Regions from separate parts of the Homo sapiens genome. Here region 2 is linked to region 1. The links come from fine-mapping of genetic effects on gene expression. A gene starts in region 1. The other region holds a variant in brackets. All regions are shown on one strand. Distances are between the middles of the regions. Region 1 holds the start of USP2 (ubiquitin specific peptidase 2). Region 2 overlaps USP2-AS1 (USP2 antisense RNA 1).

Evidence for each region. PIP is the estimated chance that this variant, and not a neighbour inherited with it, causes the effect.
Region 2: its variant is the best candidate, but not a certain one, in a credible set for the expression of USP2 in fibroblasts (GTEx, PIP 0.78).

The regions. Positions count from the first base shown.
Region 1 is chr11:119,379,632-119,384,017 of GRCh38, forward strand. It overlaps USP2 (ubiquitin specific peptidase 2), which reads right to left and starts at 2,059. Exons shown (of 13, transcript NM_004205.5): 1 at 1,842-2,059. USP2-AS1 (USP2 antisense RNA 1) reads left to right here and starts at 2,147. Exons shown (of 4, transcript NR_034160.1): 1 at 2,147-2,277. RefSeq lists an enhancer at 1,137-2,126.
Region 2 is chr11:119,423,658-119,428,043 of GRCh38, forward strand. The region is part of intron 2 of USP2-AS1 (USP2 antisense RNA 1); the gene reads left to right. It also overlaps a transcript of THY1 not described here. Among named protein-coding and RNA genes, the nearest start is that of THY1, 2.7 kb to the left of the region's middle. The variant C/G (reference allele first, on the strand shown) is at 2,206.

The DNA.
Region 1 (4,386 bases):
TATTGGCTCTGAAATAGTGGATAAGTCACTTAAGTTCTCTGAACCTTAGCTATTTAATCTGCAAAACGGGACTAATAGTAATAATAGTGGTCTATCTCAGTTGTGAGGATTAAATAAAATAATATTTGTAAATTTCATGGCCCATAGAGTTCAATAAACATTGATGATTATATTGAATACTTCCACTTCTTATTATAATTAGTGGTATTATTAATAATAGCGCCTTACCAGGTGAACCTTCCTAGGGAGAAAAGGAGGGTTACTCCTGGGGAAGTGTTCCTTTCTCTTTTTTTTTTTTTTTTTTTGAGACGGAGTCTCCGTCGCCCAGGCTGCAGTGCAGTGGCGCGATCTTGGCTCACTGCAAGCTCCGCATCCTGGGTTCACGCCATTCTCCTGCCTCAGCCTCCCGAGTAGCTGGGACTACAGGCTCCCGCCAGCACGCCCGGCTAATTTTTTTGTAATTTTAGTAGAGATGGGGTTTCACCGTGTTAGCCAGGATGGTCTCGATTTCCTGACCTTGTGATCCGCCCGCCTTGGCCTCCCAAAGTGCTGGGATTACTGCACTTTGAGCCACTGCTCCCGGCCGGAAGTGTGCCTTTCTAATGCCAGAGAACAGTCCCTTGGTTTTCTGAACTGACCATGTCCCATAACTGGGAAGGGCAAACAAGGCTTGCCATCTTCCTAGACGTCCAGTCCACCAAGCAGAGAAAGGCCAAGCCCATCTGGGCTCCTTCCCCCTTTGCCTAGAAAAATACGGCAAGTGCAGCTTCCCCCAGGCCACCAGGAGAATGCTTGGCCCCTCTGGGGTGGTTCCACTCTACCTGTGGGAGGGCTCAGGATTCCAGGGCCACAGAGCCGGGCTGGGCAGGGTCACAAGAGGAAGGAACGGGGTTCTTAGCCTCTCTGGCCTTGGTGCACTTGTCTGCTCCCAGGACGTTTCTCGATGGCTCTCCCCGAGGACTGGGAGTACCCAGCCTGGTGCCTCCACCCTGTCTTAGCACAGGCTACTGACTCAGCCCAGGTCCTAATGATGCACTTCAGAGGACGCCCTCATTCCAGTCCTCATTCTGACTCCAGTCTGACATGCATCTACAGCATCAAAGGAGGGGGCCTGCCTCGACCTTAGCCCAATCAGCTCTCCTTTCCTCTGCTTTACGGGGGTCCATCTGGGGGATGTTCTCATGCCCATTCCAGGGGAGGTGAGCAGCCCCTACCACTACCTCCAGCTCAGTCCCATTCTAAAGGCAGCCAGGTCAGGAGGTAGGATGTTCACTCTTCAGGGAAGGGCTAGAATGGGTTGGCTAGGGCTTCCCTTGACTGTTGAGAAGTTGCTCTCTCCGGAGCACCGCGTGCCTGCTTCTGGTTTGGGACTGGTGAGAATTTCAAAGCTGCCTCTTTCTGGTTTGGGATTGGTGGAAAATCTCCCCTTCCGCTTAATTGTTGCCCAACCCCCGCCCCTAACCCCCTTTAGCAAACTGACCGGGGAGCTTTAAGAGCAGCGAGTGAGCTGCACGCACACGTGGGGAGGGGGTTTGTCAGTGTCGCTCAGGCCACATACCACCGATATACACGGGGCACAGCGAGGAGGACCCGCCAAAGCAGCATTTCCTTAGAATACACTGATCAGCACACAGTTGGCTCTTCCTGGCACCCTGGGCTGTCAGCAGGCAGCCCTCACACAACTGGCAGACACAGCTGGAGCGTCCCTGCACAGCCGGCTCTCTCCCTATATTTCTAGTGTCCACTCTGCCCAGAATGTCGTGGACACCTTACTTTCTGAGCTCCAAACCGGCACTGATCCCCGAATCCCCCCTCCCGGATCCCCGACAGGTGGCACGTACCTGCCTCTTCTTGGAGTATGGACGAGTCGAACCGGGCACAAGCATGGAGCTGCGGGTGAGTCCCGGCTGGCGCTGGCGCGGCGCAGTGAGCACCAGCTGACGAAGAGGGCTCCCCGGCCTCGGCTCCTGCCTGACTCTCTCCCACCTCCGCCGGGGGCCCAGAAGGGACCTCCCCGGGAAATCGGCGCCACCCAGCGGGCAGCCGCCTCATCGCGCCTGGGCCGGCAGAGCCACACCCCGCGTCTCGCGTCACTGAGTCGCGTCACGGCTATTGGCTTGTTCCTACTGTGGCGTCATTAGAGCCCGGCCTCCGGCTGGGGCCACCCAGGCAACCGATATACACAGAGAACCACGTGGAGGAAAAGCACGCGAGTTTGGAGCGGGTGGAGCAGGAACAGAGGTGGACTGGAATGTCACACGACGGGGCAGCTGGAAGGTATTGGGAAAGAAGAGGCGTCATGGGAGAAGGCTCGGAACTTGAGCCCTGGGGCGTATCAACTTTCAGTTTTTAGGGAAGGCTAAACGTCCCCCACTCCCCTTCTCACTGGGCTGGGGGAGGTCCTGTTCCTCAGCCTCTTCTCTTTTTCTCTGCTGTCAAAGACACTCTCCGCTCATTTTACTTTCATGGGACCAGTGATTAGTGATGAATGCCTGAGTGGGTAAACGGAGGCACTGAGTCAATGAAAGAATTCTCTTTGGTCTTTTCAAGAAAAAGCCGAGACAAAACTTGAATTTTTGCTGCTCCCATTCCTTTTATGTAACCTTCTCCCGACTCCCCCGATGTTGATGAGGAAAATCGCACAACCAGGTAGCTGGGTACCAAGGCGAATCCAGGTTTTCAACTTCAGCTGCTCCATCAACCCTTGCAGCTGCCGTTAACTCCTCCCATCTTCACCATAGATCTCTCTCTCCATCGCTACTCTCCTCAAGTCCTTCCTTCTCTTCTATTTCCCAGAGAAATCAGACGCAATCAAGAGGGGAATTCTTAAATTTCTACCTACAAACATGTCTGAATCCATTCTTATCAGGAGCAGTGAAAGAGGCACCCCTGTTCTTGTCCAAGGCACGATTCCCTTCTTGATTTCAACTCTTGTTTTGTTTTTGTTTTTGTTTTTTGTTTTTTTGAGACGGAGTGTCGTCGCTCTTGTTGCCAAGGCTGGAGTGCAATGGCGCGATCTCAGCTCACTGCAACCTCCAGGTTCAAGCAATTCTGCCTCAGCCTCCCAAGTAGCTGGGATTACAGGCGTGCGCCACCACGCCAGGCCGATTTTTTTTTTATAGAGTCTTGCTCTGTTGTCCAGGCTGGAGTGCAATGGCATAATCTCGGCTCACTGCAACCTCCTCCTCCCGGGTTCAAGTGATTCTTGTGCCTCAGCCTCCCCCGAGTAGCTGGGATTACAGGAGCCCACCACCACGCCTGGCTAATTTTTGAATTTTTAGTAGAGACAGGGTTTCACCGTGTTGGTCAGGCTGGTCTTGAACTCCTGACCTCAGGTGATCCACCAGCCTCAGACCCCCAAAGTGCTGGGATTACAGGTGTGAGCCACTGCACCCGGCCCCAGCTAATTTTTTGTATTTAGTAGAGATGGGGTTTCACCATGTTATATTTCCTTAGGGCCCTCATTCCATCACTTCATTTTACAGATGGATATTGGACATGCCAGTCACTCTTCTAGAAACTGGGGATATAGCAGGGAACAAAACAGGCACAATCCCTGCCCTCAGGGAGCTTACATTCTAGTAGAAGCAGGACTAAATAAGTAGAATATGTAATATGTTAGATGATGCTAAGAGCTATGGGGCACATCAAGCAAGGAGGAGGTGCGTTCGGAGAAGGTAACATTCAAGTGACCTGAGGGAGGCTAGGCGTGAACTACACATAAATGTGGGGAAAGAATGTTCTAGGCAGAGAGAAGAGTAAAAGTAAAGGTCCTGAGGTGGGAGCGACCTGCCACTTTCGAGGAAGAACAAAGTCAATGTGGCTGGAGTGAAGAGAGAGAAAGATAGGGAAAGAGTGGGAGACGCGATCAGAGAGGTCAGAGAAGGACCCAGCCTGTAGGTCCCCAAGGCCATTCTGAGGACTTTGGCTTTTATGAAGCTACTGGAAGGTTTTGAAACAGGGTTGTCCAATCTTTTGGCTTCCCTGGGTTATGGTAGAAGAAGAATTATTGTTTTGGGCCACACATAAAATACACTAACACTAAAGATAGCTGATGAGCTTTAAAAAAAACTCATAATGTTTTAAGAAAGTTTACGAATTTGTGTGGGGCCACATTCAAAGCCATCCTGGGCCACATGTGGCCTGCATACTGTGGGTTGGACAAGTTTGTTTTGAGCAGAGGAGGGACACGGATCTGATTTTTGTTTTAACAAAATACCTTTTGCTACTGTGTAGAGAACAGCTCTGAAGAGAGCAGAAGCGGGAGACCATTTAGGAGGTCATTGTGAGCGTCTGGTTAGTGTGGTAGCAGGACAGGTGATGCAAAGTGGTGGATTTTGGAAGTATTTTGAATGTGGACTAACAGGATTTTCTGATGAATTAGGC
Region 2 (4,386 bases), 44 kb after region 1:
GGAAGCTGGTTGGGTGTTTTTCAGTGTTGGAGCAGCCCTTCGGAAGCGAGGCAGGTGCTGGACCCACCCTGTCCGTCCCTGGTCCCCAGCCCCATTTCGCCCCCTCATCTATTCCAGAGCACCCAGCCCTTCAGGGGGCTGCAGGCGCTTTTTGCTCTGGGCATTACGTCTTCTTCAGCCCCTGGGCTGGCACCTTCTGGTCCAGACAGCTGGAAGGTTCTTCTGGCTTTCCTGAGTACAGTCTGCTTGTTTGGTCTTCAGACCAGGAAGGGAGTGTTGCCTTTTAGCAGGCACTGTGCTGGGCACATTACATTCATGGCGACCTTTAACCCATGGCCGCCTGCTGGGTTCATCCCATCTCAATCCTCACCTCCTGTCTTGGCTGGTAAGTGGGAGAGCTGGAGAACTGACCTGGGCTATGGACCCCAGCTCTCAAGGGTGAGCCATTCCTCTTGCTCATCCCTGCCTAGTGGGAGAAGAGAGAGAGGAACTCTGGGAAAGAGGAGGAGACAGCACAAAAAGGACTGAGTCGAGGCCAACTCCTGATCACCTGGGGCACTCCTGATAACCCACCGATTGGATGTCACCAGAAGCCCTAGGCTCATTTTTAGAGACAGTGCTGATGACTTTCTCTCACTCACAGGTGTAGTGAATTTTTTTGAACTAACGTTTATTTGATTGATTTGTATCCTGCCAGCCTCTTTATGAATTCTGATCACGACATTCTGTGGGCCTCCCCAATGTCTGCCTGCCTGTTCTCCTATTTCTTCATGGAAGTCAGCCCTGGCACCTTCCCTGCAGTTTCTGATACTGCAGTGGCACTGTTGGAAGCCACTGTTGGAAGCTTGCAAGTGGGAGGAGATTCGCTTGGTTTCCCAGCATTTAGGGTGATGGAACACTCTAACTGGAATGAGCCTTGCAGATGGTTAAGTCCAAAGGAGCTATTCACTTTGGTAAACTGCAGAGGTTTCTAGGGCATTTTATGAAAAATGCAGCTGGCCTTGCCCACCTAGGACCTCCTTAATCTAGTACTAGAGCCAGCTGAGTCTGCACTTTTCTCACGCTCCCCAGGATCTGGGGACTCTAACACATGATCTGGTAAGACTGTCCCTCTTCATAGGTGAGCTAACCTGGCTTCTTGTTTGTAGGATACTTTTTAAGGCCATGAATGTCCTGGCCCCTGGCTGCTGACTTCCCTCCTCCCTCCAACTCCATCCCAGCCATCTTCCCATTCATCTACCTGATGCATTCCAGACACACTGGCTCTGGCTTCTGTCTGCCTCTTCATGGCAGCGCACTCCTTCCTGCTTAACAGCTTTCTGATTCTGAGTCCAGGGATCTTAACTGCAGAAGGCATCTGGGCTCTGCTGGCTGAGGCCCTGGATGCTCCGTTTCCCACTCTTTGGCCCTGTCTCTGAGTGTTGCTGGGTGGAAGGCCTAGCAGTGCTATTTTGATAAGGTTATGAGGACCTGGCCTAATTTCTGGGTCCCCAAGCACCTTGCTTTTAGGCAGGGGAGGGGAGTATAGACTGTAGAAGGTGTGGCAATTCTGTGTCTGCCAAGCAAGATCTCTGATTGGATGGAATTAATGGCTCTGATTAGACATCTGAGGTCAGGGGATAGAGCACAAGGTGGTGGAGGGAGGAGATTTTAAAACTCCATTTACTGTGGATAGGATCGGAGTGCTGAAACCAGCAAGGCTTTAGAGGAATCCAGCTAAGGCAAGACTTCCTGCCAGAAGACTGCGGCTGCCCTGTTGGTCTCTTAGATCTCTCTTTTCCCACCATCTCCTGTTTTCCCACCCAGAAACATATGGGGATAAAAACTCTTCTAAAAACACACAGTCCTTTAGCATGACCTAGGGACTGCCAGCCATTCCCTCATTTCATCAGATTGTCTTTCTAGAATCACAGAGGTGACTACAGTGGTCCCATCTTTTAAATTTTATTTTATTTTATTTTTGAGCCAGGGTCTCACTCTGTTGCCTAGGCTAGAGTGCAGTGGTGCAATCACCACTCACTGAAGCTTTGACCTCCTGGGCTCAAGTGATCCTCCTACCTCAGCCTCCTGAGTAGCTGGGACAATAGGCACTTGACACTATGCCCAGCTAATTAATTTTTTTTTTTTTTTTTTGTAGAGATGGGATCTCACCATGTTGCCCAGGCTGATCTTGAACTCCTGGGCTCAAGTAATCCTCCCGCCTGG[C/G]CTCTCAAAATGCTGGGATTACAGGTGGGAGCCACTGCACCTGGCTTGCCCCACTATTTTATAGCTGGGACTTGAGGCCCGAGAAAGGTAATGATTTGTCAAGGTCAGACAAATATTTTGAAGCATGGTCTGGACTATTAGATCTTAAGTCTCCTGACTCCATGTTCCCACTGTGCTCTCCAGTGCTCCCAGGGCGGACCCTCAGATCTCTGCTAGACTCATTTCCCTGGTTCACGGTGAAATAAGTAAAACGAGGACAGTCCGGGGTACTCTGAACATAGCTGTCAGGTTATCACCTTGTTTTGATTTTATGTTCTTCACCCTGTTGATGAGGGAGAGATTCCCATCCCCTAAAGTTAGGGGGATCACATGACCTCAACACTGGACGAATGAGAGCAATAGCAGTTTATTAGTCACATATGCTCATACCTGGGAGGATAACACTGCACGCCATGAACTGCTTCATGGGAGTTGCACTCAGAAACAGGTATTACCAGGAGCTGTGGGAGGCAGGCTTTGTAATGTCAAAACGGTGGAATGCCCCCGTTTCCTGTAAGAGAATGTGATTGGCTGTTTGCATAATTCTGTGGGCTGGCAGGGTGCTGAAGCCCAGTACTCAGGGTTAAGCAGAAATTGTGCCTGGCCCCCACAATAAGGAGGGTGGTTTGGCTGGGGGACCTCATCAGCAAAGTAGGGAGGGGATCTTGTAATTAGGCCATTTGAGGTCTCCCTGATATCAAGGCAGCCATAATACTGAGCTCTAATCTTTGACTAATTGAGACTATACACCTGCCTTTCCTATACTTTCATTCTAAGGTTATACCTTTCCATTTTTCTGAAGAGATGGTGGTATTGATATGTGTGTATGTGTGGTTTTTAATGTCCTACTTTATATATAAAAAAAAGAAAATTGGTAACTTCCTGTTAACCCTCACACTTCTTTGGAAATGTGACTAAGTCTATGAAATTAAAATATCTTGGAACTGCTGCTCTACACTCCGCTACCTCTCCTAACCTCTAGTCGAGGTCAACTTCCTGAGCAAGGTCAGCTCCCTGAAGAACTGCATATTTGGTTGGAGAATGTGACAAATACAAACTAAACATTATTTCTTGGAATGCAGGGCAGAAGTTGAGAGAAGGCACCAATGGAGACACTTTAATCTTTGATAGTTATTTTAAAAACTTTATTCATGGATGGTTTAATTGACCAAATAATTAAGACATTATTGGTACCAATAATGTTCCAAGGCACGGGGCTAGACGCTAGGTATACAAAGATTAGTAGAACACCATCTCAAAGGCTTGTTCCAATGGGGGAAACAGAAATGATACATAGATAATTAGAAAAAAGAGGGTAGACACAGAGGTAGAGACGTGTAAAGGGTACTGTGGGAGTCCAGAGGAGGGACAGGTGATGACCCAATCTGTCAGAGAGGGCTTCTTGGAGGCCAGGCATGAACTGAGCTTTTAAAGATAAATGGGAGTTGCCCAGGTATGGTAGACTGTCACATCAATGGCCTCCAGTGAGTCATGCCCCCCCCCGCCCGGTGTCCATGCTTTTGTGTAATCCCTTCCGTGCTGATTCTGGGCTTGGCCACGTGCCTTGCTTTGGCCAATGGGCCATCAGCAAATGTGATGAAAGCAGAAGCTTGTGAAATGTTTGTACGTTGGAGCTTGCTTTTTTGGAGTTCAGTTGCCACTTGAGGGAGTCTGAACTATCTCAGTTTACATCAATCACCATTTGGGATCTGCCAGCCCCCAGTTGACCTGCCATGGGACCACACAGGCCTGTGACCTGCCATGGGACCACACAGGCATGTGACCTGTCATGGGACCACAAAAGCATGTGTAATTCCAAGTGATGCCATACAGAAGAGAAATGAGCCACCCAGATAAGGCTACCGTGGTGATTCTAAAATGTGGACACAAATTCTTTGACATTCCTTCATCAAGAGGTGACATCTAGGCCGGGCGCGGTGGCTCATGCCTGTAATCTGAGTACTTTAGGAGGCTGAGGTGGGCGGATCATGAGGTCAGGAGATCGAGACCATCCTGGTTAATACAGTGAAACCCCGTCTCTACTACAAATATAAAAAATTAGCCGGGCGTGATGGCGGGTGCCTGTAGTCCCAGCTACTCGGGAGGCTGAGGCAGGAGAATGGCGTGAACCTGGGAGGCAGA